Regions from separate parts of the Homo sapiens genome. Here region 1 is linked to region 2. The links come from fine-mapping of genetic effects on gene expression. A gene starts in region 2. The other region holds a variant in brackets. All regions are shown on one strand. Distances are from middle to middle.

What was found. PIP is the estimated chance that this variant, and not a neighbour inherited with it, causes the effect. A credible set is the group of variants that fine-mapping cannot tell apart.
Region 1: its variant is the best candidate, but not a certain one, in a credible set for the expression of RILPL2 in whole blood (TOPMed, PIP 0.76).

The regions. Positions count from the first base shown.
Region 1 is chr12:123,306,363-123,310,752 of GRCh38, forward strand. SBNO1 (strawberry notch homolog 1) reads right to left here. Exons shown (of 32, transcript NM_001167856.3): 26 at 3,348-3,494; 27 at 3,127-3,221; 28 at 2,948-3,040. Among named protein-coding and RNA genes, the nearest start is that of CDK2AP1, 37 kb to the left of the region's middle. The variant C/A (reference allele first, on the strand shown) is at 1,939.
Region 2 is chr12:123,434,547-123,438,936 of GRCh38, forward strand. It overlaps RILPL2 (Rab interacting lysosomal protein like 2), which reads right to left and starts at 2,138. Exons shown (of 4, transcript NM_145058.3): 1 at 1,536-2,138. The coding sequence starts at 1,874. RefSeq lists an enhancer at 1,114-2,043 and a silencer at 1,885-2,144.

The DNA.
Region 1 (4,390 bases), 130 kb before region 2:
CAGTGGAGGTTCAAAGGCAAACGAAGACCAGGAATGAGGTCTCTAGGACCACCACTCCTCACGCCCAGCCACCTGTTGCCACACAGAGAATGAAGGACCAGTATTATCACATCCTTCAACCTAAGAGAAGCTGGGGATCAGGACTTTCATCACAATCTACCAACGGTGATATTCTGGCAATAATTTCAATTTAAAAATAATAACCAAGAGCCAGGTGCAGTGGTGCATGCCTGTAATCCCAGCTATTCAGGTGGACAAGGTGAGAGGATGGATCAAGCCCAGGAGGAGTTCGAGACTGTCCTGAAAATAACCAACACCTTATGTGGACCAATCAAAATTGCATCTATGGGGGATAGCCGAGTAAAATACTTGAATTCTACCAATATCAACATCTTGGTTGTGATATTACACTACAGTTTTAAAAAATATTACCACTGGGGTAACTGATAAAAGTATGCAAGATGTTTATCTGTACTGTTTCTTATAATGACATGCAAATCAACCTACAGTTCAATCAGTATTTCAAAAACCCCAAAACCAGCAAGGCACAGTAGCTCACAACTGTAATCCAGCACTTTGGGAGGCCGAGGTGGGAGGATCATTTAAGCCTAGGAGTTTGAGACCAGCCTGGACAACACAGTGAGACATCAACTGCATTAAAAAAAAAAAAAAAAAAAAAAGCCAAATGTGGTGGAGTGTACCTGTGGTCCCAGCTACTTAAGAGGCTGAGGTGGGAGGATTGTCTGAGCCCAGGAGGTTGAAGCTGCAGTGAGCCATGATCACGCACGCCACTGCTTATCAGCCTGGGTGACAGAGCGAGCGAGATCCCATTACAAAAAACAAAACCAAACCAAAAAACCCCAACTCAACTAGGAGCCAGATCCTTTGAGAGCTTTTCTCTAGGTCAAGGATCAGCAGCTTAGGCCTGTGGAATAAATCTAGCTTGGCACTCCTAAACTGAAGTAAGATTAAGAAGGAATGAAGGAAGGTGGGAAAAAAAAGAGAAAGGAAGGAAGGAAAACACAGAGGACATGCAATATAGACCACATATGGCCTACAAAACCATACATATCAGACCTTCATAGAAAAAGTTTAGCAACTCCTGCCCTAGATCATTTATGACTTCATCCTGCCTGTGCCATCATCATACATGTAGGTACTTCATATGAGCAAGAACCAGGTCTTACTTGCAGTCACTCCATAAATATTTGTAAACAGAAAGCAAAATATGTTATATACAACCAATGAAATATTACTCAGCCTTGTAAAAAAGAACGAAGGGGCCAGGCAGCGTGGTTCACACCTGTAATCCCAGCACTTTGGGAGGCAGAGGTGGGAGGATCACTTGAGGCCAAGAGTTTCAAACCAGCCTGGTCAACATAGTGAGACACCATCTCTACAAAAGAAAAATTAAAAAATTAGCCACATGCCAGGCGCGGTGGCTCATGCCTGTAATCCCAGCACTTTGGGAGGCCAAGGCAGGCGGATCACCTGAGGTCAGGAGATCGAGGCCATCCTGGCTAACACAGTGAAACCCTGTCTCTACTAAAAATAAGAAATTTAGCCAGGCGTGGTGGTGCGTGCCTGTAGTCCCAGCTACTCGGGAGGCTGTGGCAGGAGAATCGCTTGAACCTGGGAGGCGGAGGTTGCAGTAAGCCAAGATCGTGCCACTGCACTCCAGCCTGGGCGACAGATTGAAACTGCCTCAAAAAACAAAACAAAACGAAACAACACAACCCCAAATATCTTAGAGAACTGGCGAAATAAAATTTCTGTTGTCTTGGATCTGAGTAAGTAAATATGAAACTCAAGATACTGCTGAATATCTACATACTGTTGAGTATCTACACATACATGTATAGATGTGTGCGCACACACACCCCTTAGTTCTGTCCACAGAGACAAATCATAACTGAAAGAATGTAGCTATTTTACTAA[C/A]TGAAAAATGAGTCTTAAAGATATAAAGCATTATTAAGACTAAAGTAAGTCTCTGTCTTATGAAAAATGCTTAATTTAAGAAAATGTTGGCCAGGTGCAGTGGCTCAAGCCTGTAATCCCAGCACTTTGGGAGGCCAAGGCGGGCAGATCACGAGGTCAGGAGATCGAGACCATCTTGGCTAACACGGTGAAACCCTGTCTCTACTAAAAATACAAAAAAAATTAGCCAGGCGTGGTGGCAGGCGCCTGTAGTCCCTGCTACTCTCGGGAGGCTGAGGCAAAGAGAATGGCATGAACCCGGGAGGTGGAGCTTGCAGTGAGCCGAGATCGCACCACTGCACTCCAGCCTGGGTAACACAGCAAGACTCAATCTCAAAAAAAAGTTAATTCAGCCAGGTGTGGTGGCTCACATCTATAATTCCTTTGGGAGGACAAGGCAGGCAGATCACCTGAGGTCAGGAGTTCGAGACCAGCCTGGCCAACATGGTGAAACTTCACCTCTACTAAAAATAAAAAAATTAGGCTGGGCACAGTGGCTCACGCCTCTAATCCCAGCACTTTGGAAGGCCGAGGCAGGCAGGTCACCTGAGGTCGGGAGTTTGAGAACAGCCTGACCAAAGTGAAGAAACCCCGTCTCTACTAAAAATACATGTCAGCCAGGCCTAGTGGCACATGCTTGTAATCTCAGCTACTCGGGAGGCAGAGGATGAGGTGAGCTGAGATCGTGCCATTGCACTCCAGCCTGGGCAACAAAGAGCGAAACTCTGTCTCAGAAAGAAAAAAAAAGAAGAAAATGTAACAATTCTAAACCCACACCTAATAACATCCTTTAAAATGCATTAAGTAAAAACATAACACAAATGGACAAACACACAATTACAATGATAAATTACCAAAATAGACAAAGCTAAACACAACTGGGAAACAGGTACAAAGTGAAGAGACAATTACAATGCTGGCCATTAAAAAGTATTATATATCTGAATAGAATTTAAAGGAAAAGTCGTACTTGCAATGACAAGTAAAAGCCATCGTCTGGTCCTGTCAGCTCAGCCCAAATCTTGGTAGCTTCCTCCCATGACATTCCCCTCTCTACACTAATCTGTAAGAGAAACAACGAAATTTAAACTCATTTCTGTAAATGCATCTCATGGGAAGACGATACTTCACAACATTTTCTAAACTTACTGTGTATAATTCTACGTGGCCAGAGGTTGAATATCCTGGAGTCAGAAACTTTTTAACATCACTTTTCCGCACTTTTTCATCTCCAGAACCAAGATCTTGAACAAGAAAAAGAAACATGTAAATGTAAAAAGAACATTTTTATCAGGTACACACGTTTAAAGAATTTCTCCACTCCACATTTTCCCTGGGGACATTGTGGGGGGGAAATTTTCCCTACTTACCTAAGATTCCCATATCATATCTTCCATTTTTTTTGGCATTTTGAACAACTGCAGTAAGTGTGTCCGCAAAATACTGAAATAACGCATTCTGCTGATGCACCTCCATGCCTAAAATTCTATTTAAGAATTTTCCTATGTTGTTATAATCTGTAATGACAAAAGATAAACGTTTTCATGCAAATGATAATTAAAAATTTTTTATTCATCTAGGCTTAGTTCAAGTCCCACTTTCTCTTCTAAAAGTCTTCCTTCTTAACTCTTACACTGTCCTCACAACAAGGCTGTAATCTGCCCATTTCTCTCTCTAGCAATTAGCACCACTGCAGGACACGCTCAAAAGAGGTTTGTCAAATTGAATTTTTGCATCTTCAGCCTCACTTATGGAAAGTATGAACACAATTCAGTACATAAGAAAGTTAGTTCTCCAACACTGAATTCTCAACTGTAGTGGCACTATTAGAATGTCTGGGAGCTTTGGAAAACTACCGATGTCTGAGCTCCACCCGACTTCAGTAATTTTTCGTTTTGTTTTGTTTCTTGAGACGGAGTCTTGCTCTGCTGTTGCCCAGGCTGGAGTGCAGTCATGCAATCTTGGCTCACTGCAACCTCCCCCTGCCAGATTCAAGCAGTTCTCCTGCCTCAGCCTCCTGAGTAGCTGGGATTACAGGCGCCCGCCACTATGCCTGGATAATTTTTGTATTTTTAGTAGAGACAGGGTTCCACCATCTTGGCCATGATGGTCTTGGACTCCTGACCTTGTGATACGCCTGCCTCAGCCTCCCAAAGTGATGGGATTACAGGCGTGAGCCACCGCGCCCGACCAATTTTTTTTTATTTTTTTAGACGGAGTCTTGCTCTATTGTCGCCGAAGTTGGAGTGCAGTGGTGCAATCTCGGCTCACTGCAACCTCTGCCTCGCGGGTTCAAGTAATTCTCTTGCCTTAGCCTCCCGAGTAGCTGGGACTACAGGCACCCGCCACCAGGCCCGGCTAATTTTTGTATTTTTAGTAGAGATGGGGTTTCATCATATTGGCCAGGCTGGTT
Region 2 (4,390 bases):
CCGAGTAGCTGGGATTACAGGCACCCGCCACCACGCCCGGCTAATTTTTTTCTGTAGTTTTAGTAGAGATAGAGTTTCACCATGTTGGCCAGGCTGGTCTCAAATTCCTGACCTTGTGATCTGCCCGCCTTGGCCTCCCAAAGTGCTGGGATTACAGGCGTGAGTCACAGCACCCAGCCAGATGATTTTTAACATATGTGTAGATCCCTATATCCATACCCTGATTAAGATATGGGACACTTCTAGCTCTCTATCAATTTCCCTTCTTTTCCCCCCACCACCAGTTTGCCTTCTATAACTATAAATTATTTTGCCTGTTCATGAATTTTATTTAAATGTACAGTAGGGCTGGGTGCTGTGGCTCAGGCCTGTAATCCCAGCACTTTGGAAGGCTGAGGTGGGTGGGTCACTTGAGGCCAGGAGTTTGAGACCAGCCTGGCCAACATGGTGAAACCCCGTCTCTACCAAAAAAGAAAAAAAAAAAATAGCCACGCGTGGTGGCACACGCTTGCAATCCCAGCTGCTCAGGAGGCTGAGGCAGGAGAATCGCTTGAATCCAGGAGGTGGAGGTTGCAGTGAGTCGAGGTCACGCCACTGCACTACAGTCTGAGCAACAGAGCAAGATTCTGACTCAAAAAAAAAAAAAATCTACAGTAGTTTCTCTTTAGTGCCTGGCTTCTTTCTCTCAATGTTACATCTGTGAGATTCATTCACACTGCTGTGTGTATCAGCACCCCGTTCTTTTTCTCTGTTGCATAGTATTCCATATATCACAATTTCAAAACTCAATTGGGTTGCATTTAGAGTGTTTCCAGTTTGGCAGCTGAGACTAAAGCTGCTCTGAATCTTCTTGTCTATGTCTTTTTGTGGTCATATGCACTAATTTCTCTTTAGGTAAAATGTGTTTCTTGTCCAAGTGTGGTGGCTCACATCCACAAGCCCAGCACTTTGGGAGGCCAAGGTGGGAGGATTCCTTGAGCTTAGGAGTTTGAGACCAGCCTGGGTAACGGTGAGACCCCCATCTCTACAAAACATCAAAAAAGTTAGCCAGGCATGGTGGCACATGCCTGTACTCCCAGCTACTTGGAAGGGCAAGGCAGGAGAATTGCTTGAGCCTAGGAGGCCAAGGCTGTAGTGAGCCGTGTTTGCACCACTGCACTCTAGCCTGGGAGATAGAGCAGGACCCTGTGTCAAAAGAAAAAAAAAGTGTTTCTTGCTCTAGGTCAAAGGTTCTCAAACTGTGGACCCTGGGCCAATAGCATCAGCATTAACTGCGAACTCGTTAGAAATACAGATTCTGGCCAGGCAGGGTGGCTCACACCTGTAAACCCAGCACTCTAGGAGGCTGAGGCTGGGGGATCACTTGGAGCCAGGAGTTTGAGACCAGCCTGGGCAACACAGCGAGATCCCATCTCTTAAAAAAAGAAAAAAGAGAAAAGAGAAGAGAAAAGAAAAGGAAGGCGTCTCCCTGCCAGTAGGTGCCCTCCTACGCCCCGCAGGCGCCGTGGGCCCGGAACCCTCGCTCCCACACTCACCTCCCCGCTGGCCGGAGGGCTCTGTCTCCGCAGCCCCTCCACCTCCTTCCTGAGGTGGTCCCTCTCCATCTTCAGCTCCTCCAGCGCCAGGCTGCCCTCATTCACCAGCGCCTCCAGCATCTCCAGGACGCGGACGACTTTGAACTGCAGCTGCGTCACCCGGGGGTCGCTGCCCAGGGCCATAAGCTCGCGGCCCAACAGGTAGGAGATGTCATACACGTCCTCGGCGGTCAGCTGGAAGGGGCTCTTGCCCAGCGCCCCCTCGGGCCCAACCTCGTCCCTCTCCTCGTCCTCCTCTCCCTCCTCCTCTTCCTCTTCTCGCACAGGGGGCTCCTCCATGGCCACCCAGACCCCCGCCGACCTCGGAGCTGCTGTCTTGGAGTCTCCCAAAGGTTAGACTTCCTCCCGGCACCCAAAACTTTCCGCTGGGCAGAGTCCCTACCTGCCCAATCAGCGCGGCCCGGGGGTGGGCCCGGGGGGATGGTGCAAGGGGCCGCGCACGCGACTCTTGGGCCTGCGCCCCGGCGCACCGTCCCCGCTGCCAGCCACGCTGGAGAGTGCGCTCCAGGATGTGGTTTGGGGCGCGAAGGGACAACGGAAAAGGAGGCAGCCGAGAAGAGGAACGGGGAAGTTCAGGGGTGACGGCAATCGCCCCAGCCTGGGAACAGTTGCAGCCCCGGGGAGGAGCCGCCCTGAGCCCCGCCCCTGGCGACCGCTGCCAGGAGGTGCGTTTCCGTGGAGACGGAGTTTCCACCGTGCAATCCAGAGCGGGGTAAAAAGAACGCAACTTTTTCCTTTCCACCCTCGTGCTTTCCAGCCGTAGAATTTGCATCGTAGGTGATGGAAGATCCGGGTGTCTCTTTGAGGGTGTTTTCTGGAGCCTGCGGCCAAACAGAAAGCAGCTGCTGGGGGCAGCGCGACAGAGTCCCCGAGGCTTGAGGATCTGGAAAACTCCCAGGCAAATTGTCACTAGGGCCTGGGGCGTCCGACTTCGCTGTGACTCTCAATAAAATGGAGAATGTCTGCCCTGCTCACTTCGCTGGGTCCTCGGCTCCTCCACGTAACCAGCGCTGTCACCTTGGCAAGTTACTTAACGTCTCCGAGCCTCAGTCTCCTCCTCTGTAAAATGGGGACAATAGCGGGACCCAGGTGGCAGGGTTGCTGCGAGGAACATGAGCTTATGAGATCATGTGTGCGACACCTCAAGCACTTAGGAAGCACTCACATACGTGACTGCAATCCTTCATTCTTTCTTTCTTTCTTTCTTTCTTTTTTTTTTTGAGACGGAGTCTCCCTGTGTCGCCCAGGCTGGAGTGCAGTGGCGCGATCTCGGCTTGCTGCAAGCTCCGCCTCCCAGGTTCACGCCATTCTCCTGCCTCAGCCTCCCGAGTAGCTGGGACTACAGGCACGCGCCACCACGCCCGGCTAATTTTTTTGTATTTTTAGTAGAGACGGGGTTTCACCATGTTCGCCAGGATGGTCTCGATCTCCTGACCTCGTGATCCACCTGCCTCGGCCTCCCAAAGTGCTGGGATTACAGGCGTGAGCCACCGCGCCCGGCCCCTTCATTCTTTCTTCCACAGCGCTAGGGAGGAATTGCTGGTGTTGGAGACACCTTGCTACTTGGGTGAGAGAAGGAGGAGTAATTAACAAGAGAGAAACCCCTGTCTGAAAATCACAAAGCATTCGACACATATGCGGAATCCATATTACTGAGAATATTAGCAGAGTGGCGTAGAAACTTGAGTCATTCGCTGTGGCTCATGCCTTAATCTCAACACTTCAGGAGGCTGACGCAGGAGGATTGCTTGAGCCCAGGAATTTGAGACTAGCTTGGGCATCATAGTGAGACCCTGTCTCTACAAAAAGTAAACAAAAGTAGCTGGACACAGTGGTTCATGCCTGTAGTGGCAGGTACTCGGGAGGCTGAGGTGGGAGGACCACTTGAGCCCGGGATGTTGAGGCTGCAGTGAGCCAAGATCTCACCACAGAGTGGTGCCTGTGACAGAGTGGGACCATGGTGACAGAGTAAGATCATGTCTCAAAAAAAAAGGCACAACAAATCTCAAGTTATTTTAGGTTTCACTGGAGGTTTGTGATAGTCTCAGGCAGAAAGCTCAGCAACGGGGCTTGTCTTTCCCAGGAATGTATTGGCAGCTTTCCTTGTGATAGGTGTATCCATTTTCTCCACACTGAGGTACTAGAATCTCAATGGAGAATGTACATAGATTAAACCAACCAACAAAAGCAAAGCAAATTAACAAAACACACTATTTTCAGAGGGTCGTTTCTTTTTATTTTATTTTATTTTATTTTATTTATTTGTTTATTTATTTATTTAGAGACAGAATCTTGCTCTGTTGCCCAGGCTGGAGCTCAGTGGCATGATCTCGGCTCACCGCAACCTCCGCCTCCCTGGTTAAAGCAATTCTTCTACCTCAGCCTCCCCAGTAGCTGGGACCACAGGCGCATGCCGCCCCGCCTGGCTAATTTTTTGTATTTTAGTAGAGATGGGGTTTCACTGTGCTGCCCAGGCTGGTCGCGAACTCCTGAGCTCGGGCAATCCTCCCACCTGGGCCTCCCAAAGTGCTAGGATTACGGGCGTAAGCCACCCTGCCTGGCCTATTTTACTTTTATAAAATAAAAAAGTCAGGCCGAGATGGGCGGATCACGAGGTCAGGAGACCGAGACCATCCTGGCTAACACGGTGAAACCCTGTCTCTACTAAAAATACAAAAAAAATTAGCCGGGTGTAGTGGCGGGCGCCTGTAGTCCCAGCTACTCGGGAGGCTGAGGCAGGAGAATGGCGTGAACCCGGGGACAGAGCTTGCAGTGAGCCGAGATCGCGCCACTGC